Linked DNA regions of Homo sapiens. The protein of the gene in region 5 interacts with the protein of the main gene of each other region in a pairwise test. Each region holds a gene or a part of one and is shown on either strand. Other genes may lie near its edges. The genes, in order: UBE2W, UBE2K, MAGEA2B, UBE2E2, TRIM31, UBE2D4 and ZSCAN1.

Evidence for each region.
Region 1: the proteins of TRIM31 (region 5) and UBE2W interact in a two-hybrid assay, tested with the Homo sapiens proteins (one large-scale study listed by BioGRID and IntAct).
Region 2: the proteins of TRIM31 (region 5) and UBE2K interact in binary tests that used the Homo sapiens proteins (3 or more experiments, as listed by UniProt).
Region 3: the proteins of TRIM31 (region 5) and MAGEA2B interact in a two-hybrid assay, tested with the Homo sapiens proteins (one large-scale study listed by BioGRID).
Region 4: the proteins of TRIM31 (region 5) and UBE2E2 interact in a two-hybrid assay, tested with the Homo sapiens proteins (one study listed by BioGRID).
Region 6: the proteins of TRIM31 (region 5) and UBE2D4 interact in a two-hybrid assay, tested with the Homo sapiens proteins (one large-scale study listed by BioGRID and IntAct).
Region 7: the proteins of TRIM31 (region 5) and ZSCAN1 interact in a two-hybrid assay, tested with the Homo sapiens proteins (one large-scale study listed by BioGRID and IntAct).

The regions. Positions count from the first base shown.
Region 1 is NC_000008.11:73,868,863-73,872,362, forward strand, and holds part of UBE2W (ubiquitin-conjugating enzyme E2 W), read right to left. Parts: intron 1,440-3,500; coding exon of another isoform or gene 1,407-1,439; intron 1-1,406. UniProt on the Homo sapiens protein: Accepts ubiquitin from the E1 complex and catalyzes its covalent attachment to other proteins.
Region 2 is NC_000004.12:39,701,136-39,704,635, reverse strand, and holds part of UBE2K (ubiquitin-conjugating enzyme E2 K), read right to left. Parts: intron 1-3,500. UniProt on the Homo sapiens protein: Accepts ubiquitin from the E1 complex and catalyzes its covalent attachment to other proteins. In vitro, in the presence or in the absence of BRCA1-BARD1 E3 ubiquitin-protein ligase complex, catalyzes the synthesis of 'Lys-48'-linked polyubiquitin chains.
Region 3 is NC_000023.11:152,713,420-152,717,427, reverse strand, and holds the start of MAGEA2B (melanoma-associated antigen 2), read right to left. Parts: upstream 2,801-4,008; 5' UTR 2,746-2,800; intron 2,582-2,745; exon of another isoform or gene 2,500-2,581; intron 2,350-2,499; 5' UTR 2,271-2,349; intron 1,472-2,270; 5' UTR 1,352-1,471; intron 781-1,351; exon of another isoform or gene 683-780; intron 533-682; 5' UTR 467-532; intron 387-466; 5' UTR 322-386; coding exon 1-321. UniProt on the Homo sapiens protein: Reduces p53/TP53 transactivation function through recruitment of HDAC3 to p53/TP53 transcription sites. Also represses p73/TP73 activity. Proposed to enhance ubiquitin ligase activity of RING-type zinc finger-containing E3 ubiquitin-protein ligases.
Region 4 is NC_000003.12:23,209,827-23,213,326, reverse strand, and holds part of UBE2E2 (ubiquitin-conjugating enzyme E2 E2), read right to left. Parts: intron 1-3,500.
Region 5 is NC_000006.12:30,110,291-30,114,314, reverse strand, and holds the start of TRIM31 (E3 ubiquitin-protein ligase TRIM31), read left to right. Parts: upstream 1-1,224; 5' UTR 1,225-1,251; intron 1,252-1,426; 5' UTR 1,427-1,509; coding exon 1,510-1,926; intron 1,927-2,475; exon of another isoform or gene 2,476-2,571; coding exon 2,572-2,667; intron 2,668-3,636; coding exon 3,637-3,867; intron 3,868-4,024.
Region 6 is NC_000007.14:43,936,436-43,939,935, forward strand, and holds part of UBE2D4 (ubiquitin-conjugating enzyme E2 D4), read left to right. Parts: intron 1-1,995; coding exon 1,996-2,059; intron 2,060-3,500. UniProt on the Homo sapiens protein: Accepts ubiquitin from the E1 complex and catalyzes its covalent attachment to other proteins. In vitro able to promote polyubiquitination using all 7 ubiquitin Lys residues, but may prefer 'Lys-11' and 'Lys-48'-linked polyubiquitination.
Region 7 is NC_000019.10:58,032,695-58,036,824, reverse strand, and holds the start of ZSCAN1 (zinc finger and SCAN domain-containing protein 1), read right to left. Parts: upstream 2,801-4,130; 5' UTR 2,664-2,800; intron 2,083-2,663; exon of another isoform or gene 856-2,082; 5' UTR 814-855; exon of another isoform or gene 343-813; coding exon of another isoform or gene 332-342; intron 1-331. UniProt on the Homo sapiens protein: May be involved in transcriptional regulation.

The DNA.
Region 1 (3,500 bases), on a different chromosome or scaffold from region 5:
CCTACATGCAAGGTATATTAACAAAAACAAATTAAAACACAAGCCTACATAAAAACTTGTACATACATGTTCACAGCATTATTCATACTAAAAAGGGGAAACAATCCAAACTGTCAATTAATCCATTGATGAATGAAAACAGGAAACACAAATATCTGATATTTAAATAACTGGTGAATGGATAAACTGCAGTACAACCAAAAAATGGGCCATTACTTGGCTACGAAAAGGAATAAGTATTCATACAAGCTACAACATGGATGAACCTCAGAAACATTATGAACTGGGCATGGTGGCTCAGGCCAGTCATCGCAACACTTTGGGAAGCCTAGGCAGGAGGGGTGCTGAGACTGGGAGTTTCAAGATCAGCCTCGGCAACACAGTGAATCTGTCTATATAAAAGCTTTTTTTAAGGCCGGGCACAGTGGCTCATGCCTGTAATCCCAGCACTTTGTGAGGCCGAGGCGGGCGGATCACAAGGTCTAGGAGTTCAAGACCAGCCTGGCCAACATGGTTAAACCCCGTCTCTACAAAAATACAAAAATTAGCTGGGCACAGTGGCTCACACCTGTAATCCCAGCACTTTAAGAGGCCAAGACAGGTGGATCTCTTGAGGTCAGAAGTAAGAGACCAGATTGGCCAACATGGTGAAACCCCGTCTCTACTAAAAATACAAAAATTAGCTGGGTGTGGTGGCGCACGCCTGCAGTCCCAGCTACTCGGGAGGCTGAAGCAGAAGAATTGCTTGAACCTGGGAGACGGAGGTTGCAATGAGCCGAGATGGTGCCACTGCACTCCAGTCTGGGAGACTGAGCAAGACTCTTGTCTCAGGGAAAAAAAAAACTACAAAAATTAGCTGGGTATGGTGGTGCATGCCTGTAGTACCAGCTATTACGGAGGCTGAGGCAGGAGGATCACTTGAACCCAGGAGGCAGAGGTTGCAGTGAGCCTATTGTGCCACTGCACTCCAGCCTGGGTGACAAAATGAGACCCTGTCTCACCTGTCTCAAACAAACAGCTAAGTGAAAGAAGCCAGGCACAAAAGGTCATATATAATATAATTCCACTCTCACAAAATACCCAGAATAGACCAATCCAGAGACAAAAAATAGATGAGTGGTTTCCAGACACTGGGGAAAGGGGGAAATAGGGAGTGACTGCTAATGGATAAGGAGTTTCTTTCTGGGGTGATGAAAATGTTCTGCAAACAGCAGTGATGGTTCTGAACAGATTAAAAACCACTGAACTGTATACTTTAAAAGGGTAAGTTTTATATGTGGATTATATTTCAATTAGAAGAAAAAATTGTGCATTAAAAGGATGTCAAAATGGACTTTAATAGCTCACAATTTTATTTGACTAATTCTCAAGTTTTGAAGAGGATTGGCAAAAAAACACACACTTACTGGAAACCATACTTCCACCCTCCTTCCTGTGGTCTGAAAATACAAAGAAAGACCTCATGTAACACATGGTCATAAAGGAAATCTATTTTTTCCATTGATAGCTAGTGCAGGGACTAGAAATCAGAAAAAAAAAAAAGACAAAAGCATCTAGTAGAGCTAGCTTAAAATGGGAAACATAGCATTAAAAGATAATTCACCAATTCCAAAGATCCAGGAAATGAAATAACCTGTTTTTATCATCCCTATTTTATATTTGGAGGTGGGAGGTTACACAGCTATTAAACAACAACACTAGAATTCAAACCCAAGGTTATCTGATTCCAAAAGCTGTGCTCACTTATTCATTTATTCGACATTTACTGAACTCTCCTACATGTCAGGCACTAGGTTACATCCAAGAAAATAGAAAATAAGCTAATTAATACATAGCCAAAGGTATGAAGAATTTATCAAGGTAAAGGAAATTATTAGCGCTGGGATGGGAGAGCTATTTTATATTGGGTAGTCAGGAAGGGCTCTCTTAAAAAAAAAATATTTGAACAAAGCTATGAGTGAAAAGAAAAAAAAAAAAAAAAAAAGGAAGCCATCCAGATCATCCAGATGTGTGAGAAGAGCATTCCAAATAGAGAAAACAACAAGCAGGAGTAGCAAGGAGGACAATAAGGCTACAGAGACATGAGTACCTGGGAGAGGTTAAGACCTCCTAGGCTATAACATGGATTTTGGATTATATTCTGAGGAAGAGAGGGAAGTCATAGTAGGATTATGAATGAAATGACATGACTTTTGTTTAGAAAGAATCTATTGGGAATCTAAAGAGATAAGTAAACGGATGAGGGCAGAAGTAGGAAAACCAGTATGACACTGCTAATATAATCCAGGCAAGAAATGAGGATGTCATCTGTATTTACATCAGGAATTCAGAAAATCAGTTGAATTCTGGATATATTTTGAAAGCAGAGCAGATAGAAATTTGCTAATGGTTTGACTGTAGGGTGGAATGAACCCAAGGTTTCTGGCTGAGCAAATGGAATGAAGTTGCCTATATACCAACATGGGGAGTACTACAGAAAACAAGTTTGGGTAAGATAAATACAAAATGCAGTTTTATATGTTTATCTATCTGCTAATCTGTTTTTGTCTACCCACTACACTCCATAATGATTTCTGTGCAATATAGCTTTTTAAAAAGTAGTGAAACAGGACCTGAATTTGGGTCTTTTCATTACAGAGCCTGTGTTCTTTATCTCTAATGAAGTTTTACAAAAGCAGCTAAATGAAAGTAGAGTATTTTCTTAGAATAAAACAACTCAAAAGCATGCGCTGTTTTTTGGTGATCCAAGAACTACATTCACAAATAAAGGCTTTCAAATGAGGACACTTTAATACCTGACAAACATGAACAAGTATTTTGCAGATACTACTCATAATGAAGCAGACAGCAATAATATAAAGATGGAATAAAATTCATCTAACAAATGCTTAATTTAGGTAAATACTAAGGAGAACTATATTTTCAGAGAGATGCCAGATCATCCCTTTATTTTTTATTTTTATATATACTTTTTGAGACAGGGTCTCACTCTGTCACCCACGCTGGAGTGCAGCGGCACTTTATTTTTTATTTTTATATAAATTTTTTGAGACAGGGTCTCACTCTGTCACCCATGCTGGAGTAGAGTGGCACAATCCTGGCTCACTGTAGCCTCGAACTCCCTGAGCTCAGGTGATCCTCCCACCTCAGCCCCCCAAGTAGCTGGGACCACAGGAATGTGCTACCACACCCAGCTAATTTTTGTCCCACGCTGGGATCATCCCACCTTAAAAACTCTCCTTGATAATGAAGATTATCTTTGAAGGCCAGGCGCGGTGGCCAGCCTTGAAGGATAATCTGATATTACTTTCTGCTTTAGATTTCCTGCTTCATTAAGGCAGGAAAAAATACTTTCCCTCTATCCCTTAAATGTGCACACAGTGACTACCGTAAATATTTGTCCATTACTTAACACTTCAAAAAGCATTCCTAAATAGCTAATTCTGCATTAGTTTAATTCTATTTTAGGTCAGTCTATTAAGCAGTTCTACAATAGTAAG
Region 2 (3,500 bases), on a different chromosome or scaffold from region 5:
CTGGGGAGTTCAAGGCTGCAGTGAACTGTGATCACGCCACTGCATTCTAGCTTTGGTGACAGTGAGACTCTGTTTCAAAAATAAATAAATAAAAAGGGAAGAAGCTAGGGAGCCCAGATGTGTCTAAACCTACGCCCAATGGACAGAGCTCAAAGTCTTTGTAACACTGTATACAAGGAATTCACCCCAAACATATTACCTGCACAGACTTTGATTTTTTTTAACCCAATCTATAGGCTTTCCTTGCTCAACCCATTCCAGAAACCATAAGAAATACTATTTAAATATTACATAAAACTGTAACTTACATAACTTTCAAACACACTTTTGAAAAAATAAAATAAAAATAAAAACTTTAAAAACCACTTTTTTACTATTTGGAGACAGTGTGTTGCTCTGTCACCCAGGCTGGAGTGCAGTGGCACAATCACCGCTCACTGCAGCCTCGACCTCCCAGACTCAAACGATTCTCCTGCCTCAGCCTCCCCAAGTGCTGCAATTACCGATGTGAGCCACCACGCCTGCCTCTAGTCTTAGAAACAACTGTTCAAATTCTCGTTACATTCATTTTTGGTAGAAAATTTTACCTTTTTATTAAAATCAAAAGCGAGAAATTTTAAAAGAAAAACACTAAAAACGGGAAACAAACTTAAAAGTTTTAAAAATAAAACATTCAAAGCCAGTATATATTTTTTGTCTTTACTGTCTGTGTCCATTTATTCTTTAGATAAATTATCTTACACATCTGATACAGTTAAGTCTCAAAGTATTCTTTTTTTTTTTTTTTTTTTGAGATGGAGTCTCGCTCTGTCGCCAGGCTGCAGTGCAGTGGTGCCATCTCGCTCACTGCAACCTCCACCTCCCCGGTTCAAGCAATTCTCCTGCCTCAGCCTCCCAAGTAGCTGGGACTACAGGCACTCACCACCATGCCCGGCTAATTTTTGTATTTTTAGTAGAGACGGGGTTTCATCATGTTGGCCAGGATGGTCTCGATCTCCTGACCTCGTGATCCACCTGCCTAGGCCTCCCAAAGTGCTGGGATTACAGGCGTGAGCCACCACGCCTGGCTGTGTTCTTCTTATATAGTTAATAAATAGCCAGGAATCATTTTCTTTTTTCATTTATGAGACAGGGTCTCGCTGATGCCCAGGCTAAAGTGCGGTCACATGATCACAATTCACTGCAGCCTTGACCTCATGGGCTCAAGCATCCTCCAGCCTCGGCCTCCCGAGTAGCTGCCACTATAGGCACATACCACCAGGCCTGGCTGATTTTTTTTAAATGTTAGTAGTAACAAACTCTCACTATGTTGCCCAGGCTGGTCTTGAACTCCTGGCCTCAATCGAGTCTCAGCCTCCTAAAATGCTAGATTACAGGCATAAGCCACCCCACCTGGCCATAAACACTCTTTTAAAGAGTTTTGTCAGGCCAGCCTGGCCAACATGGTGAAACCCCCGTCTCTACTAAAAATAAAAACATTAACCGGGCATGGTAGTAGGCGCCTGTAATCCAAGCTACTCGGGAGGCTGAGGCAGAATGGCTTGCAACCAGGAGGTGGAGGTTGCAGTGAGCTGAGATCGTGCCACTGCACTCCAGCCTGGGTGACTGAGCAAGACTCTGTATCAAAAAAAAAAGTTTTGTCTACATAGTTCTCAACATATGGCAGTCTGGGGACATTTTTAGTTGATGCATCCAGCAAGAAGAGATAGTGGGGACATGCGCTGGGGCTCTGCAGTGCTACCTGCATATACTGGTAGAGGTCAGGGATGTTGCTAAACATCCCACAATGCACAGGAGAGCCACTCAACAAAGAACTATCTGCCCAAAATGTCAGTAGTGCCAAGGTTAAAAAATCCATGGTCTACAGAAATCAAAAGACTTACTTTTAGAGATTTACAACTACTTCTATTACAGAATAATCTAGATCAAGCTAGATCAAGTACATTAAAATTTTAAAGGAAAATAGACACAAAAATCTATTTAAATGATGAGGGAAAACTTAATGTACTATATAGTAATTTTCACGAAACCAATTTGTTTATGCCATAGATTTAAACACGCCCTATGAGACTAGAAAATGTTGGCCAGGTGCAGTAGCTCACTCCTGTAATCCCAGCAATTTGGGAAGTCGAGGCGGGTGGATCACCTGAGGTCGGGAGTTCAAGACCAGCCTGACCAACATGGAGAAACCTCGCCTCTACTTAAAATACAAAATTAGCCAGCCATGGTGGTGCATGCCTATAATCCCAGCTACTCAGGAGGCCGAGGCAGGAGAATTGCTTGAATCCAGGAGGCGGAGGTTGGGGTGAGCCAAGATCGCGCCATTGCACTCCAGCCTGGGCAACAAAAGCAAAACTCCGTCTCAAAAAAAAAAAAAAAAAAAAAAAAAAAAAAAAAAAAAAAAGAAAAGAAAAGAAAAGAAAAGAAAATGTTACCAAAGTGCAATTACAACATGAAAAACCAACAGGTGCCATATAGCATAAGACCAACAAGAGAGTGCACTGATTTAAGGGTGTTTTATTTCATTAAGTTTCAAATTTTAAAATATTTGGTATATTGAAATTCAAGTAAATCTGGCTGGGTGTGGTGGCTCATGCCTGTAACCCCAGCACTTTGGGAGGTTGAGGCAGGCGGATCACTTGAAGTTAGGAGTTCAAGACCAGCCTGGCCAACATGGTGAAACGTCGTCTCTACTAAAAATACAAAAATTAGCTGGGCGTGGTGGCGGGCACCTGTAATCCCAGCTACTCAGGAGGCTAAGGCGGCAGAATCTCTAGAACCTGGGAGGCAGAGGTTGTGGTGAGCTGAGATCGCACCACTGCACTCCAGTCTGGGCGAGACAGCGAGATTCCTTCTTAAAAGAAAAAAAAAAAAACATGAAAGAAAGAAATTCAAGTACATCTTAAAGTTAATTATAGGTAACACTTATTTCAATGAGTTTAAACTAGCAAATTAAACTGTGTTTAAATCCTTTAACCAGTAATACAAACCAGGCTCGATTTTTTAAATTAATTAAAAGCATGCCTATCCTTAGCAAGTCATGACAGCGTGGGACAATATGAACACAAGCAGACCTAGATCCAAATCCCAGGCTCTGTGATTGCAGACAAATAATTTAACTTCTCTAAATCTCTATTTTCTCATCTAGGAAATAGGACATCTAAAGAACTGTGCTTAAGAATTAGCAATAACGTAAAAACAAATGATACTAAGAACAACTAGCCATTCTACAAATGGCAGCTAGTTATTAACAGCAGCAATAACTAATAGTAAATAATAAAACTTATGAATAAAACATTGATTATGGGTTTATATCCTCACAATTAATAATTTACTTATGTAATCCTACTCATAAAATAACTAATTATAAAATGTACTTTACATCAATATTCCATGCCTAACAACTTTGGAATATTATTTAAAACTACTTAAAATTCACACTCATATTTAAAAACAAACATCTAAAACAAAGAAAATAAATATTAATTAATAAAAAGAAA
Region 3 (4,008 bases), on a different chromosome or scaffold from region 5:
TGCTTGGAACTCGGACTCCAGGTCGGGAAACATTCTTGGCCCCTCCTCTTCTTGGTTGCTGGAGCCCTCATCGGATTGTCTCCAAAGAGTGTAGTTGATGGTAGTCGAGAAGCTGGAGGCTCCCTGAGGACTGTGGGGAGGACTCGGTGAGTCGGCAGCAGGCACCTCCCCCAGGGTAACTTCCACTAGAGTAGAAGAGGAAGAAGCGGTCTGCTGCTCCTCAGTAGCAGGAGCCTGCGCACCCACCAGGCCCAGGGCCTCTCCTCGGGCCTCAAGGCCTTCTTCAGGCTTGCAGTGCTGACTCCTCTGCTCAAGAGGCATGATGACTCTGGTCAGGGCAGCAGGCAGGAGTGCGGGCAGGAGCTGGGCAATGAAGACCCACAGGCCTGGGGAGAGAAGGAGCGTGTGTGAGGCCTTAGGTGAGAACTGAACTGAACCTTGGAGGCTCTGACAAAGGCTTACTTACAGATCTTCTCCTTCAATGCTCCTCCAGTGCCTCGGGTCCTACTTGTCAGCCTGTCCCCCTCAGAACCTGAAGGAGGAAGTGGGAGGGCACCTCAGGGTACAGCCGGCCAGCACATGCTCAGGCTGCAGGACTGAGAATAGGGAGGGTGAGGCCAGGCCCTCTGGAGTCCCATTTGTTCTGGGCGGGTGGGGCCCTTGGTGTGCATTCCAGGCAAACCTTCAGTGTTGGCACTGTCTGCGTCCCCTCTGCTCTGTGACCTGAGGACACTGACTCAGACCAAGGCCTCACTGCCTGGTTCCTGGAGCTCCTGATTCCTGGGAGAGGAATGCACGGGCCTTCAGTGTGCAGACTGCAAGCACAGCCACGGATTCCCAGAAGTCTCAGCAGGGTTGGCCAGACTCCGTGAGGTCCCCACTCTACTTGGGTGGAGGGTCCCCTCTGTGCTCACTCAGGGCCCTCACCTTTCTCCTTGTAGGGCCTAATCCCACCCTTTTGCTGGCTTGAGAATCTCTCATGTCAAGAACTCACATCCCTGATATGGTACAGAAGGAGATGAGGGGACCCACATCTGGCCATACGTGACCAGGTCCTCCCGCGAAGGACAACGAGAGATGTCCAAATTCATTGGAGTCCAGGTGTCCTGGGTGACGAGTCCGCTTGGTCCTCACGTCCACTCCTGGCAGGGCCTGAGACCCTCCCTCTACTGACCTGACTCCAGCCCCTTCAGACCAAGGCCTCCCCTTCCCTGACATCAAAGATCCCAGGATAATGGAGGGACTTCAGCTGACAGCCCTGCCCAGGGTCTCTGAAGTAACCGCAGGGGCAGGGCAGATTTCTATGGGGCCCCCTGTCTGCATTCTGGCCCAGGAGTACCCTCAATCCTACCTCAGGCTCTCCACCTGGATGCTTGGCAGATCCTAGAACCACTGCATCTGTCGACCAGATGGGGGCCCCTGTGTTGACCTGAGTCACCTTCTGAAAACAAGGTCATCAACTCCCTGAGATCTGGAAACAGAAGTGAGGAGGGGCCACATCCTGTTACCCCCACGTGCGTTGTCCAGGGCTGACCCCTTTGGTTCTAGGGTGAACGTTATGATGGCCTCCTGTGGGTTACTCATCTTTACTCCTGCCAGGGACTGCCCTTTCTCAACCCCCAACCCCCTGAAATGAGCAGACAGCTCCTCTTTACACCAACACCTTATCTCCCTGAGGGTTCCCCAACCTCCTGCCTGTGGTACAAATGAGATTGTCACTTAGGGCCATCCCTGATCAGGTTCCCCCAGAGCTAAGAACAAGGGACGGCCAGACTCTGTGGCATCCCTTCTTTCTGGGCCGGGGGTATCCCCAGTCCTCATGAAGGGGGCACACCTTGGGTCCGGCAGATCCTGGGATTCCTCCCTCTGCTGACCTGAAGTCCCAGCCCTCAGACCACAGCCCTCAACTCTCTGTCACCCTGAAGGTGCAATGAGCACGGGGCACATTCGGCCACTGTGCCCAGGATCCCCCAGCCCAAGGTTGCCACTGATCTGGACTCCAAGGTCCCCTCAGTCCTCCCTCTTCTTCCTCCCCTTGACTCCTCGCAGGGCTGGGCCCCAACCCCCTGCTGAAGTGGGTCTGCATCCCTAGGATTCCCGCGGCTGAATGAAAAGGTGGCTCAGTTTGAGACAGGGGTACAGTGGGCCCCCTGTCCTGGCATGCTGGGTCCCCTAAGGACTCCACTGTCTTCCAGGAGGGCCTGGGCCCTTCCTCTGCATCCCAAAGGCCATACTCACGAGACCCAACCCCTTCCCTCCCTTAGCCGTACATGTGAACGTCAGGATCCGCGTGCTTGGCCGCCATTCCCGGAGCTTCCGTGGGTTGATTGCAGGGGCAAAGCCCGGATTCTGCCAGGATGGTGGTGGGGGAGGAGATGGGAATGGGGTTTGGGGGTGGGGTTGGTGTTTGAGGGATGGGGGTGGGGTTGGTGTTGGGGGATGGGATTGGTAGTGAGGGTAGGGGGTGGGTTGCCCTCAGTCCCCTCTTGGGGTCCTGACCTTGATTCCTGGCTGAGTCTGGGCCCTGAGCACTTCTAACCAGCCCTGCCCTGGTCACACAAAGCTCTTACGCCAGAGTTCCCTGCGGTTAAAGCGGCGGGGGGTGGCGGGGTGAGGTGGTGGCGACTCAGCCTGAGAAGTCTTCCCCTGCAGGGTGGTCCAGGCCCGGCAGCAGAGGCAGCGCTGGATTATTGGGGGCCCTCTGTCTGGGGTGAGGCCCGCCTCAGTCCTCCCTCGGCGTCTTACCTTGCCTCCTCACGGAGCCTGCGCCTGCTTCCCTCCGCCGACGTCAGGCCGTTGCTCAGGGCGAGAATCTCGCTGTCCTCTGACCTCCAATGCGCAAGTCAGTGGCGTCACATCCGGGCCCGTGACTTCCCTGGGTTCACGGCAAGGGTGGAACCGGATTCTGCCCGGATGGGGATCTGGATGGGGGGGTGGGGGTAAGCATGAAGATGGTGTTGGTGTAGGGGTAGGGATTGGGACGGGGATCCTGAGGCTGTAGATCCTGGTGGGGTCGGGGGAGTTGGGGGTGGGAGGGGCCTTTGGTCATCCCTCAAGGTCCTGACTTGGATGCCAGACTGAGCCTGGACCGCCATCCTCTGCCGATTGTGTTTGCTCCCCTCAGACCAAGTCTCTGACTCTGAGTCGGCCCGAAGTGGCATTGGGGGGAGGGGTGTGCTCGGGGTGAGATCATTGCCAGTGTGTACCAGGGCTGACAAGAGGGGCTGAGCTGGATTCTGTGGTCCCACTATGTGGGTGAGGGTGGATCCTCAGTCCTCACTCAGGAGGGTCCTCTTCCTCACTCCTGGCTGTTTGATGAAGGAATGGGTGGGAGATGCTCTGTTTCTGTCACCTCTGAGCATCTGCGCATCTGCGCATCTGCACCCCTTGTAGAGAATGGCTGCGGGTGCCAGGCCAGGTGCTCCCTGCAGGGCAGGAGCTCCCGCGATGATAGTGACCTCTGGGAGAAGACGCACACCTTCCCACGGGGGCTCCTCCCCAGCCAGAGCTACACTTGGCAAACCTTTGGTCCTAAATGATTTATTCTCTGAATTGAAGAAATACGGTTTACATATCTTCTAAGTATATATGTAGGTAGCAATATATATATTTATTTCTATGAACTAACACCTACCCTTAGTATGCATGATTCACTCTGATATCCTAGTCTACTTCCATTCCAGTCTTTGTGTTCTGTTGAAAGAATTTTTTTAAAAAACATAATTCCTCTCCCACTCTGTTGGTTTCAGGTTGTTATTAGCAGAACTCTGGAGCCATGCTGCCTTAACAAACCCAATTTTCCTGGTGGACACTGCTATTACCTAGGGCTCTTGGCATCGTGTTTTCAGGGGCTGCCTCAGATTGTGCAATGAAGTGAAGTGGAAAATTCAAAACTTTTATTCTACCCATTCTTTCATCTGCCGTCTAGGCAGGCTACAAACCTCCCCAACATCTCTGCCGCTAACCCCCTCCAACAGACACTGCAAGTGTCACACACAAGTACCAGCT
Region 4 (3,500 bases), on a different chromosome or scaffold from region 5:
TACGAAACACTCATTTTAACATCAATATATTGGGCTAAGGGTTCAGAAAAATGAAGCAGTGTATATGTACTAACATGTTTAAAACACACACATACATTTCTTGAGTTAAAGAAAATTCAAAAATTTACTGAGAGCCAAGTAGAACATGAATGTGTGGATACGCAGATTCGCAAAGTAATTTCTTAGCAGGAATTTTTTTAAAACCCTTCATCTCATCTAGACAACTTTCTATATTCCCTTACAGACTACATTCCTCAGTCAACCTAAAAACCCCTACTCTAATCAATTGAATCACCTAGCGAAAACCTTCCAAAATGAACTTATTCTCAAAAAAGCATCATGCAACTAATTATTAAAATTTTTTAAATGTCAAAGCAATCTTTAGAAAACACATTGCCATTGCAAATAAGAAGTCTAGAGTTTCATTCTAAATGGTGGTATATACTATATATCTATGATTCTGAAAGATCATTGATTTTAAGACACACCATCAATAATTGTGCACATAAATTTTAAGATGTGTCCCAATTTCAGAAACATTAAAAAGTTTTAAAATGTACTTTTAGAATGAAGAAAATACAGTAATTACAAAAGATTATCTACAAAAGTACTATTTCATTCTCATGTGGAAAACAAACTTAGACGAGCCCATATGATAAAAGTTCAAACTGGAATACAGTGGAATCAATCTTTCAACCTAACAAAAATTTAGTCTGAAACCAAAAACCATACCTCGAACAGTATCATATTGAATGTCCAAAAATAAAATCACCATGTCCACTCTAAACAGTTAATTTAGAATAAATATGATATAAAATTCACATTTACAGATGTATCAACCCGTAAAAGCAGCAGAATAAATTCAAAGAAGATCTCAAAATAGACGTTTTATTGAACTGACTAGTCAATTTAATCAAAATAATCTAAATCTGTCACTGCAGATATAGTCCAACAACAGACTTGCAAATATAACAAGAGTGATATAGACATATCAAGAGAACAGGCTGTGATAAGAGCATGACAATTTTTTAAGAAACTCTTGCCAAAGAAAAGCAAAAATGCATCTAAGATGTAACTGTAATCTTTCCTCCTAACTCTGAGACAGAAATTAATTTCTACTGCTGTTTAAATACCCACTTAAATGTTTTCTGTATTATATACCACTATTCTATAATATCACAAATGAGATTTTTCAAATCATAGTTCTATACCAGCTTATTAATTCTATAATTACTGCATTACAATTATTAATTCTACAATTATAGTACATTTCATATAATAACTGAGCACCTACGTGCAAGCACTTTTCCTAAGTCACTACAAAATGTATTTAATTACGGCATCTGAGTATTTCTAGTTTAACAATAGCATTAAGGCCTCCAAGGTTAACATATACCTCATTTTTCCAAAGTTTGTACCAAACAGACTTGAAAAATATGACCGTAGATTTTAACTGACATAAAGTCTATCAGTGACGGCATCAGTTTTGAGAGCTTACTATGTGCCAAATAAATGCTTTATCACATTTAGTCCTCACAAGAACCTTCTGAACAGCGTACCGTTATCATCTTCCTTCTACGAAAGAAGAAATCGAGGCTTTGAGCTGTTAAATTATACATCAAGATCACAGAGGCTAGGCACAGTGGTTCATGCCTGTAATTCCAACACTTTGAGAGACCAAGGCAGGAGGATCGCTTGCAACCATGAGTTCAAGACCAGCCTGAGCAACATAGTGAGACTCCCATCCCTACAAAAAATACATTAAAAATTTAACCTGGTGTGGTGACACAACCCTGTAATCCCAGCTACTTGGGAGGCTGAGGCTGGAGGACTGAATGAGCCCAGGAGTTGGAGATCATACCACTGCACTCCAGCCTGGGTGACAGAGCAAGACTCTGCCTCAAAAAAAAAAAAAAAAAGACCACAGAGCTATAGCTACTAAATGCTAGAACCTAGATTCAAACGTAGATGCTGTCTCTAGAGTTCAAGCTCTTCAATGCTACTCTTTATCTCATAAAATGACACTATTTGGGAAAGGCTTCTCATCTGAATAAAAATGATCGTCAACAAAAAAGTGTGAAATAAAATTTATTTTGAAACTACCTCTAACTTTTAATCTTCTGAACACACTAGTACTAAGATCCTAATATCCATGGAAAATCCGATCCCTATAAGAAGCTCAGGGTTCCAAGGCAGCCAGTAAATAAATACTGTGACTGTACTCTGCTAGGCACTGTGGACATGGCAGTGAACTTAAAAGATGTGGGGTCCTCTGTGCTCATAATTCCCAATTTTTTTCCTAAGTTCAGCAGAAATGGCAAAGAACCAACAACTTCACTATCAGCTGAATTGGAGGAAGAGAGAGGGGAAAATAAGGTTTTTTAAATTAAAAAATTAGTAGTGAAGCCGCATTTTTATATTTAAAATAAATAGTACATAATTACATCATTTCATACACTGTCACCCGAAAACCAACTGAAGACCTTTCTAGAGGAAGATCATGAACCACAATTTGAAAATCACAGATTCACAACAATTTGCCAATGGAGGGATTCTTTCAGCCAGGAAGCAACTCAAAAGAGACTTCCTATTTTCACCAATGCAATACAACCACTTTCTATTTACTGCCAATCAGGCACTGCGCTGCGCTCTGCACATACATTATCTCTAAACTAGGTTTTATCTCCTACATACAGTGCAGAAAAATATCTTCTATATTTTTCCCTCGTGAAATCTATCATTAGGTTTGAATAATCCGTACTTTCTCTATATACTGTAGTAAAATAAAGATGACCCACGTACTTGAAAAACTCATGTTCACACATAAAGCAGTACATCTTTCATAAGCAGAATTTGGTCTTTGACATATCACCCAAGAAATATGATTTTAAGGTATTTTATAGTGGTGCTCCCAGTTAGAGGAAAAGGCAGAGCCTCACCACAACAGGTGACTTTGCTAACTAGCAATCATAGAATAAAGCACAGGCCCAGCAGAACCCTATTCCCCACAGACCTGGCCAACCAATCCTTCCCCTTTTCTGACAAACTGAAGAGGCCCTGTAAAAACCCAATCAGACACTGAGGACTGAATTAGATCTTCCTCATCTGCGTGGAACTACAATCTGTACCTGAACATCTCCTTCCCACCTACATCGACTTCCTTCTTTCACCTAAATGTCATATTTTCTCTATTCCCCACCTTTCTCATCCATCCTAACCCCACCCCCCATTTTCCAGGTCACCTCTAAGCAGGTCATTTGTGTTGTGGTCTGGCAAACAGAAGGGTCAGCCAGCTGAGTCCCCGGTAATTGTGTTGTGATGGCAAAACAAACTGAACCCTCTTCCCCACCCTAGCATGGTCTAGTATACAGGTCTCAAAGTTTAAAGTTCAGGGCTCTCTGACTTTCAAACAGCTCCTTCAACAGAGATCAGCAATACACCCCCACGAAAGGGAAACTGAATACTCTAGTACCTTGGAATAACCACTCACCATCCCTCCA
Region 5 (4,024 bases):
ATTATCATTATTTTCTAAATCATCATGCCAGTCAAACAAAACCTGTCAAAAGTTAAATTCTGCTTCTAGGGGCCAGCAGTTTAGGAGTGTAAGTAAAACAATTTACAGATGTTAGACTGTTTTAATTTAACCCTAAAACAAACAAAAAGAAAGGTCTGGAGGTATAACATTTCTGAAAGTCTTTGGTTTACAGCAGTTGCTATAAGGGGAGCCACATAATTTATAGTCCAAACTGGACATTTCTGAAAGTGAAAGGAGGTGCTATTAATAATTACACCAGGACAAAGTGAAACCCAGGATGGTTCCAGGCAAAGCAGAGTGTATGATCACTCTGGCTATTATTATAATAATCATCCACAAGCCCTGTTTGACCTAAGATTAAGATCAGACAAAAATTAATGGTGTACTTCTTGCTGGGGACAGACGGCTGATAATGGAGAGTGAGGAGGTGAGGGTGGAAGCTATACCAAGAGAAGGGGTAGGGAGGAAGCACCCTTTTCCTTAAGACAAGAGGCAAGGAGGGAAGGTTAGGACATGAATGTACAGAAGGGAATGTATGTAACACTGGTTGATATATTCCTAGTCATAACAAAAGCCATAGAAGGCAAGTCAGGGATCAGAGAAGCACCAAGAAGGAAGAAGAAGAACATATAGACAGAATTGGCAAAGCAAAGAATGGGCACGGAGACACCAGCATACTGGAGACATACAGAGAAAAAATCAACAGAGGACAGACTACTACAGGTGTTGTGGGGAGACAGAAGATCACCAGGGGCAAGAGCAAAGTGCAAAAACAAAGAACAACTCTTTAGAAAGGAAGTTCCTTGCCTATCCTACTGAGCTAGGGAGTGGTTGGTTGACCCTGTGACTGGAAATTCCCCAAGGTAGGTGATGATAACCTCCACATTTTCACAAAATTCTGTGAGGAGCCAAAGCACCTGAGGTAGAGAATTGCCCTTCCCCTACTTTCCAGATGCTCTACCAAGGCTTGAACTTTGCATACAAGATGCCCAAAGCATTGCAGTGAACTGGCTGTGACCTTTCAGTAGGCATCACCACCCACCCCTCCACTCCCTACTCAGAGCTGATTGGGAAATCCCCCATAAGTGGTGTTTGGTGCCCCGGTCATTCTGATCTTAGTCAACCACCATACAAACATACCTTTAGTCCAAAGTTCAGGACAACTTATTTCACTTTATAAGCAGCCTATTACACATTCAAAGTATCCATTTGTTCTCAAGAGGTAGCAAGGTAGGACTGCCCATCTGTTTTCCTCTCTTTATAATATTTTCTAGATCCTAAATTTTACGCTTTTCTATCATTTCTTTATTTTTTTCTCCCTCTTCTTTTCCTCTCTCTCTGCTCTTCTAACTAATTGGCAGAATCTCTGACCTCCACTTTCTCTGACTCCCTTCTCCCTTCCTAGAAACAGTATCCACAGTGGACTCCGGGGCTCCTACAGACTTGGCACAGCTTCCTACAGTCTTGAAACAGCCCTGTTGTTCTGTCATGGCCAGTGGGCAGTTTGTGAACAAACTGCAAGAGGAAGTGATCTGCCCCATCTGCCTGGACATTCTGCAGAAACCTGTCACCATCGACTGTGGGCACAATTTCTGCCTCAAATGCATCACTCAGATTGGGGAAACATCATGTGGATTTTTCAAATGTCCCCTCTGCAAAACTTCCGTAAGGAAGAACGCAATCAGGTTCAACTCGCTGTTGCGGAATCTGGTGGAGAAAATCCAAGCTCTACAAGCCTCTGAGGTGCAGTCCAAAAGGAAAGAGGCTACATGCCCGAGGCACCAGGAGATGTTCCACTATTTCTGCGAGGATGATGGGAAGTTCCTCTGTTTTGTGTGTCGTGAATCCAAGGACCACAAATCCCATAATGTCAGCTTGATCGAAGAAGCTGCCCAGAATTATCAGGTAGGCATTTGAGGTTTCTTCCCTGTTCCCCCATCAGCCCAGGAGTTCAGTGAGGCCCTGGAAACTGCTACCTTCCCACTGAGGGTTTGCACCCCATTGCCCCCACCCCTTGGGCTTGAGTGGGCAGCTCGCAGTCAGGCACAGTGGGTTCAAAGAGCTGAGTCTGGGGAACTGCTGACTCTCTAAATCAAGGTGCAATGGAGAATGGAAAGGATGTGAAAATTTGACTCAGAAGGTTTGGGCTCAAGCCCAGTCTTGTGAGTTTACTGTACAACCTGCAAGGAATCACTTTACCTCTCTGAGCCTCAGGTACCTCACCTTTCAAATGGCAAAAACAAAACAACTCTCTTAAAGTTGTTGGTAGGACAGATGAAGGGAAGTTTGTAGTTCTTTGATAATTCCAAAGCACCATCCATAGTCCTAGTTAGTCATAAATAACTATGTTCTGGTCATTTAGGTCACTTAGGCTCCAGATTTCTCCCTTCTCAGCAACCCCTTTCCCCGCCAGCTTGAGAAAGGCGAGTCCTTAATAATTACACAAGGACTCACCTGGAGAGTGTCACCAGCTCTCCTAAGAGACCAGGAGGATTTTATGAGGCCAGAAATCTCCAGGCACAGCCTGTCCAAACGGCCCTCTTTCCGCAGGGGCAGATTCAAGAGCAGATCCAAGTCTTGCAGCAAAAGGAGAAGGAGACAGTACAAGTGAAGGCACAAGGTGTACACAGGGTCGATGTCTTCACGGTAAGAAAAACTCCATCCCACGATCTCTGGAAGCAGAAACATCTCTGCCAAAGCTCCTGGAATCCCCTATTACACTGACCCCTCAGAAAAAGATCCAGTGAGCCATGTCCTCTCCTCGGCGCCTCAGCACCTGACCGGCCAGGCGGCATCACCTCCCGCGTCGGCCTCGCTATTACAGCGGGCTGACTGCTCAGTCTCCACCGGCAGACAAGGTGGGGCACGGAAAACCCGCGCTGGTCTTAGAATCGCAAGTACAGGTTTTTAAGGCCGAGCTGCGCCCTCAACGGATTCCCCAATTAGAAAATGAAGACATTGGCCGGGCGCGGTGGCTCACGCCAGTAATCACAGCACTCTGGGAGGCTGAGGATCGCTTGAGCCCAGGAGTTTGAGACCAGCCTGGGCAACATAGCGAGACTCTCCTCTTAATTAAAAAAAAAAAGAAAGAAAACTAGCCGGGCGTGGTAGCACACGCCTGTAGTCCCAGCTACTAGAGAGGCTGGGAGGTGAAAGTATTGTTTGAGCCTGGGAGGATGAGGCTGCAGTGAGCCGTGATCGTGCACTGCACTCCAGCCTGAGTGACAGAGTGAGAGACTGTCTCAAAAAAAAAAAAAAAAAAAGACAGAAGGAAAATGAAGACATTGTGACCCCACTTACCTATTTTCCTGTGTGCGTGAAAGGAATAAAATCTATATGAAAGATTATAAACTGAAAAGCCTTCTGGAATTGTATTAGACAGTTCCTTGAAGGCAAGTGGTAAACCATAAATTAATAATTTCGCTTAAAGCTGAGCACGTAGTAGGTGCTTTTAGAAGTTTGTTCTCCTCTCCTTTCCTTTCTTCCAGGTCTGCCCTGGCACATTGCTCTGGTTGGGAATTCCACACAAACTTAATAAAATTAATGGCTGAATAAAGTGGGCTAGAAGGACCTTCGAGGCCATCCTCTCACCCTCTGCCTGTCCCTGTTTCTTAGGACCAGGTAGAACATGAGAAGCAAAGGATCCTCACAGAATTTGAACTCCTGCATCAAGTCCTAGAGGAGGAGAAGAATTTCCTGCTATCACGGATTTACTGGCTGGGTCATGAGGGAACGGAAGCGGGGAAACACTATGTTGCCTCCACTGAGCCACAGTTGAACGATCTCAAGAAGCTCGTTGATTCCCTGAAGACCAAGCAGAACATGCCACCCAGGCAGCTGCTGGAGGTGAGTCCCTTGGGGGCAGAATTGCAGAGAGGTAGCAGCCCATCCCTAGTCTCAGGTCAGAGCATGGACCACTGGCAGAATACCTGAGATTGCCCCAACCATCCTACCTCTAGCCCAGTGCTGTCCAATAGCAATATGTGAGCCGCATGTATTAGAA
Region 6 (3,500 bases), on a different chromosome or scaffold from region 5:
TGTAATAGTAATTACTATATAAACTTAATCTACTTAATCCTTTACAATTAATAAAATATTTATATATTTAATGATTTGGTAATAAATTCCCATGGTTCAAAATGTGCACAGGATATACAGGGAAAAGTCTCCCACCCAAGACTGTCCCTAGCCATCCAGTTCCCCTCCTGGGTGGGCAACCAGTGTCGAAGTATTCTTCTAGAAATATATATATTCTACTTATTCCTCTCCCTTTTTATAATACTAATTGTAGCATTCTCTATACCACTATTATCTTGATATTTACTGGGTGCTCTTGCTTACATTATATACATTAAAAACTTACATGCAAAATTTGTAGCCACACAATAGTACCGGCAAGTTGGCAGGCAAGTATGATTACAACTTAACAGGTAATTACACTGAGGCCCAAAGAGGTGAAAGTGATTTCCTCAGTGACGGAGCTTGGATTCAGACCTGAGTCTTCTAACCCTGAGGTGAGCACAGGAATTCGATGTGTGAGTGGACTAGTTTCTTTCAAGTCACACCATTCTTCCTTGAAATGCCAGTTAGTATTCGAAACTCCTGGGTGCTGGTTGGAGTCTAACAATAGGGATCCACACGTGGCCTTTCAGGGATCATTAAGTGCTGGTGTAACTGTTCATCACACCTCTAAAGGGGGAACATGGATTCTGCATATAGGCAGTGCAAAAGCATAGAGGTGTGGGAAAACCTTGTGAGGTGGAGGGGAATTGGTCTGTACTGCTGGCTTTTCCTGCCCCTGGCTGTTCATATAACCTCTTCAGGATTTGCCTTAGCAGTTCTGTCATAGGGCTAATTTATCCATGCAGTGTAGCAATGAATATAAACAATTCTCCTGCACAGTGATAGTGGAGGTGCTGAGGGGCACATAGCAGAGAGGTAAGCTAAAAGGAACTGTTCCACAGAGATTTCTGTAGCTCTTGCATTTCTGAGCCTGTCCTTGGTCCCCTTGTATGACCTCACTTGTTCCCCAAGTTAAATTCTCTTTTGGCCACTCCTAATGCTGCTTCCTGAGTGCTTGCCAAGTATAATTCATTTTACTTATGAGGAAATGGGTTCAGATATATTAGATACTAATCGAGAATTGGCCAGTGGTATACTGGTAGATGTTTAAAGATCAACCCTCGGGGAGAAAACATGGCCCTGATTTGTAGCATTTGCTGGCTTCTGTGATGTTAATACTTCCATCTTGGCTGATTAAATTTGAAGTGAAGGGGATAAATGCAGGATGGCCAGAGATGTGGTTACTGAAATGATCAGCATGTCCAGAGACATATGGTGAAATCAGGAGAGTTTGTGTAGATAGGACAGTGTTTGGCTTAGTTCAGGGTTGGTGTCCCATAAAGGGAATCTAGTCGTGGTATAATCCCTGATCCCCACTGGTGCAGTGTTAAACTTTGGCTCACGTGCCAGTCTCCACATTCAGAGCCCTAGGACTTGCCACATAACCAGTGGTGACTAGGGTGATTGGGATGGTGGTTGGGGAGGTAAAGTAGAGAGATTAGCACTTCCTTGGTGCTGCTTCCATGCATTAATTCATTAGCCTAGCAGTAAAACCTGGCACCTATCCTTCTCCCAGAACTCTCTCCTGGGCTGCTTTTCTTCCATATCTTCAGCACCTGGGGGCCTGGGGATGTCCTCTACCTGAGGAGGTAGGAGGCTAGGCTTGGGGGTAAGGCAGAGCTACATGTGACTGACTTCTTGCCCTGCCCTCTTCCAGCTCTGTACCTTGAGTAGGTAACTTCATCACTTTACAATTCAATTTCCTAATGTATAAAATGGAAATGATCATACCTACTTCTCTGGTATCTTTGTAGCAGGGAGTAGAGTCCTATGACCCACCATGTCTCTAACCCCCTCCTGAGGCCTAGGAGCCTCCTCCCACCAGGAGAATTCCTTCCAGCTACCAAGATTGGTATGTAGAGGCAGCATCCCCAGCATACAGCAGCTCTGACCCACTCTCTCATGTTCTAGGAATTAACCGACTTGCAGAGGGATCCTCCTGCCCAGTGTTCTGCAGGACCTGTCGGTGATGACTGTAAGTATTTTGGGGGGCTTCAAGTTGTAGGAGCATTTTAATTAAGACCCCCCAACTTAGGCCAGGTGCGGTGGCTCACGCCTGTAATCCCAACACTTTGGGAAGCCAAGGTGGGTGGATCACCTGAGGTCAGGAGTTTGAAACTAGCCTGGCTAACATGGCGAAACCCCGTCTCTACTAAAAGTACAAAAATTAGCCGGGCATGCTGGCACATGCCTGTAATCCCAGCTACTTGGGAGGCTGAGGCAGGAGAATCGCTTGAACCCAGGAGGCAGAGGTTGCAGTGAGCCAAGATCGTGCCACTGCACTCCAGCCTGGGCAACAGACTCTGTCTGAAAAACAAACAAACACAAACAAAACCAAACAACCAAATTATCAGCCAAGCAGTATTTAAGAAAACCAATCAATGCTTTTCCCTTCATTTTCTCTTGAATGGCTTTTCATTTGAGGTCTAGGCCATGAGTTCACAGCAGCTTGGCTGGTCAGCTTATACTCAAAGTAGAACCTGCACTGCCTCTCATGTCCCATAGTCACCGCTTCCCTCTTCTGGCGCATGAGAAAGCCAGCTTGGCCTGAGGAGTCACATCAGCTGCTGGAAAGTGCCCTTGGCCAAGTCAAACTTGGGTGCTGGTGTAAATATTGTTGGAGTTGGTCTAGAGGACCTGGTGCTGCTGCAGCTCCTGGGAGCAGAGCAGGACAGTGGAGGAGGGGCAGGGCAGGGTAGGGCAGTGGCCACTTGCCTCTGCCAAGGGGAAGGGCAGTCCCTATTATTTTCTCCCACTTCCACTCTTCCCTGGCGGAGACTGAAGCAGCAGCTCTGGGCAGCTTCTTGGGAGAGAGAGGGAGAAGCAGCACTGCCTGTTCCAGGCCTCTGCTGTCCCTCACAGGTGCTGGCCGAGGCTGAGCTGCCCAGCACTAGGGTTTCCAGGTCTGTCCTCTGCCCACTCACCTTGCCTCCACTTTGTGGGCTTCTTGGGCTCTGGGACACCAATCCTTCCCTGTGAGGCTTCAGTAACTGCAGCCATAGGAAAATAGGTGGGGAGGGGAGATACTATGTGTTCAAGGAGAGTGGTGTCAGAGGTACATATACCAAAGAATCAAAAACAGAGTGAGACAGAATGTGTATGCCAATGTTCACGGCACCATTACTCATGATTTTCAGAAGCTGGTAACAACCCAAGTGCCCATCAGTGGATGACAGATAAACAAAATATGGTTCTGATACACATTACAACATGAAAACATCCCAAGTGAAATAAGCCGGAAAGAAAAGAATGAATATATGATTCCACTTACATGAAATATCTAGACTAGGCAAATTCATAGAGACAGACGGTAGATGAGAGATTACCTGAGGCTGATGGGGGGTGGAAATAGGAGAAATATTGTTTCATGGATACAGAATTTGTTGGGGGTGATGGAAAGCTTTAGAAATGGATGG
Region 7 (4,130 bases), on a different chromosome or scaffold from region 5:
ATCCCAGCTACGTGGGAGGCTGAGGCAGGAGAATTGCTCCAACCCAGGAAACAGAGGTTGCAGTAAGCCAAGATCGCACCACTGTACTCCAGCCTGAGTGACAGCGTGAGATTCCATCCCAAAAAAAATAAATAACCAAAAATGAGTTGGGCGTGGTGGCACGCACCTGTAATCCCAGCTACTCGGGAGGCTGAGACAGGAGAAATGCTTGAACCCAGGAGGCGGAGATTGCAGTGAGCTGAGACTGTGCCACTGCACTCCAGCCTGAGCGACAGAGTAAGACTCTGTCTCAAAAAAAAAAAAAAAAAAGAAAAGAAAAAAAAGAAGTTACCTTTTGTACATTTTCCAAGCCGACTATGGTGAACATATAACTGAAGAAAACATTAAAAGTTGTAAAAATAAAAATAAGCAGGGAGGTTTCGTTTGTTTGTCTTTAACAATTGTACTCTGGACTGATCCGCTGGTGAGAATATAAATTGGCACGACCTTTCTGGAAAGCACTGTGGCCATTTATATATCAAGAACACTTGGTAGACTGCGTGCAAGATGCGAGATTCAGGCACCAAGATTCACTACAAAAGTGCCCAACAGTTGAACGTGGTGGGATCAACTACCTCCCCCATCATGTGATGGGAGTATTCAACCGTGCCCAGTACACAACACTATGACATGACCACGGGGAGTAGACACATGATGTACAGATGACATGAGGCACAGGGAACGTGGGATGCAGGATGATGCGTGAGTGTCATAGAAAGGGAGTCCTGGGAAGACGCCCATGGGGGGCGGCCAAGTGCTTTGTGCTGTTCATACTTCTCTGAATCTCCTCCAAATGGTGTCGGGCTCCCATGTGACCTTCATCAACATGGAAAAACAAAACAAAACAAGACATCTTTAGGAAGGATTTTTGACCATATGGGAAATGCTTATGACAAGTGAAAAGGAGGGATTCCATGGGATTTTTCCCTCTTCATCCTCTGCTGCATTTTTCATACACTCTGCAGTTCTCGTGCATCTGGTTTTACAATCCAGGAGAAAGGAGAGGTGCAGGGTGGCAGAAAGGCAACTCACGGGGACTGTGCCCAGCCAGCCATCTTCGAGTCAGCGTACCCGGCCACCTGCACCCTGATTGGGAAACTACCAGCTTGGTCTTCCCTGCCAAGGCCACAGGCAAAAATGCTCTCTTATGTTGTATTCACACTTTTATATATGTAGTTTTGAATAAGAAAAAAGGGCCTATTTTGAAGCTCCACAGGTTCAAGAAATCCCTTTGCCCTGGGGCCTCAGACCTTATACTCTCTCAGGTGCTCATGGCAGCTCACCCTGGAGACTCTAGGGAGGGGGGCTGTAGCCCCTCAGCATCCTCCAGGGTCCTGGGCTGAGGTCTGTGGGAGGAGATGCTAAGTTTATCAGGGATGAGGGTAAAGAGGAGGTCTTAGCAGAAGGCACCAGAGGTCCATGGGTGTGTCTGGGGTCTATATGGGGGCTGATGTGGAACACCTAGGCCAATGTGGGGGTACCTGAGCTGATGAGAGTCCTGGACTGATGGGTGGCTGTTTCTGGAAGATGAAGAGGGCCTGGGATGATGTGAAGGGGACTGAGGTCTACATGGCTGGTGAGGAGGATCTGGGCCCCCCCATGGGCAATGCTGTGGTGGCCCTGGGGTCCTAGAAGTCTACTTTGGTAGGGGTCTCTGATTAATGTTGGGGATGTGTGTGTGTGAGAGAGTGTCACTTGGAGGGCTCAGTGCCTGTGGAAGGGCCAGGTTCACCTGGCATGGGCACTGAGATCTGCAGCCCGAGCCCCAAATTCTATTGCGGGGATGGGCAGAAGGGCTTTGCCGCTGATGCCGGATGCTTAGTGACATAGAAGACGTGTTCACTGCGCCAGTCAGTGAATGGTTCTGGCTTTGAGAAGGGGGCTTACAGTGGGGAGGGCGTTGGGAGCTTAGGATGCCACACGGAGGAGTTCCATAATAAACGAGCTGGGGAAGTGTGCAAGGGCAGCGCACTGGGAATACAGGGGAGGGGCAGCGACGACGGCTGTGGACGGCTGGTTGGGGGGAGGATGGTGGGGTGATTGGGTGGGGGATGGGTCGGGGGCGGCTGTTCAGGAGGGAGATGGGCCTGGGGCGGGGAGGGGGAGCTTGTAGGGAGAGAGACGGGTCGGGGGCTGCTGTTCCAGTGGGGGATGGGCCCAAGGGGCCGGGTAGGGAGGGAGATGGGTCCGGGGGCGGCTGTTCAGGAGGGAGATAGGTCCCGGGATGCTGATCAGGTGTGGAAGGGAGAACTTGGACGCGGCCGAGCGGTGTTTGGGCGGGCAATGGGGGTACGTAGAGGGGCTTCGGCCTCAAACGGACAGGCGGATGCCAACAGGGGTCGGGGTCCCTGCGGAAGGGGCGGCCCCAGCCCCCCCAGTCCCCGCCCCGCGTGGCCTCTAGCCTTCCCCTTCCCTCCCCTACGGCGACCTCAGGACTCCCGATGGGCTCTGGAACCCCGGCCCGGCCCGCCCCCTCCCGGGCCCGGGCCCGCCTCCCCCGACGCGCGCCCCTGGACCGCGATCCCGGGCCAGCTCCCGCCGACGCGGCGCCGAGACCCTCCCGGGTGGGCGTCCCGATGGACGCTCTGGCGGGCGGAGGGACGGATGGGCCGCGGCGGACTCACCGCGCGCGGGCTTCGCTCGGGCCTGGGCCACTCGGTCATGGCGACCCCTGGGCTGGCGAGCGCGCCCAACGCCGCGGGCGGACCCCATCCCCGCACCCTGCGCGCCGCGGGCGGCCGCCATTGGTCCGCTGGATCACGCCGGGCGTCGGTGACAAGTCACCGCTGCGGGACTCCCGGGCAGGGGCGGGGCTGTGACGCACGAGGCGGCCGAGGCCAATCAGAAGCCGCCTGGGATGAGCGCCCCGCCCCCGCCGTGCCCTCCAGTTACCTCGGGCCGCGGTTCCAGTCGCCTTGGCAACGGGTCGCGCAGCGTCAGGGACGCTGCTGCGGAAAGTGGAGACGGTGGCGGCTGCGGGGATGCGCATGTACGATGGGGCCGCGGGGCAAAACGACGGCATTCCAGACACGCAACCGTTTTATACAGTGTCCAAGAGTAGTATGTTAAAACATTGTTTTTAATATAAATATGTTTAGTACAAGTATGTCCCAGACTAGGATCGCCACTCTTAGCAAATAAAAATACAGGACGTCGGCCGGGCGCGGTGACACGCCTGTAATCCCAGCACTTTGGGAGGCCAAGGCAGGCGGATCACGAGGTCATGAGTTCGAGACCAGCCTGACCAATATGGTGAAACCCCCGTCTCTACTAAAAATACAAAAATTACCTGGGCGTGGTGGCGCATGCCTGTAATCCCAGTTTCTCAGGAGGCTGAGACAGGAGAATCACTGGAACCGGGGAGGCGGAGGTTGCAGTGAGCCGAGATTGCTCCATTGCACTCCAGTTTTCCAGCGTGGGTGACAGAGCGAGACTCCGTCCCCCCACCCCCAAAAAAAAGAAAGAAAAAAGAAACCTCAGTTATATGTAAACTCAAGAAAAACAAGGAGGCCGGGCGCGATAGCTCACGCCTGTAATCCCAGAACTCGGGAGGCCGAGGCAGGCGGATCACCTGAGGTCGGGTGTTTCAGACCAGCCTGGCCAACATGGTGAAACCCCGTCTCTACTAAAAATACAAAAATTAGCCAGGCATGGTGGTGCGTGCCTGTAATCCCAGCTACTCGGGAGGCTGAGGTAGGAGAATCGCTGGAACTGGGGAAGCCGAGGTTGCAGTGAGCCGAGACCTGCCAACGCACTCCAGCCTTGCCTGGGCAACAGAGTGAGACTCTGTCTCAAAAAAAAAAAAAAAAAAAAAAAAAGAAAGAAAGAAAAAGAAAAACAAGGAATTAGTATCAATGTGTCCTATATTTCATATACTTTAACGAAACCTTACATAAGAACATTTCATATAAATAAGTTTTAATATTAATGTCTACAATGTAACCATGTGCCAGAATAGTAGGGTTCCACAGATACTCGTTTTGTATCTGAAATCAGGTGGGGGTGAGATCATGATGCAAGGAGGGTCCTCAGCTCTGGGACTGAGCTCAGGATAGCTGAAGCTGCTCATTGCTGAAGAAGAAGCAGGAGAG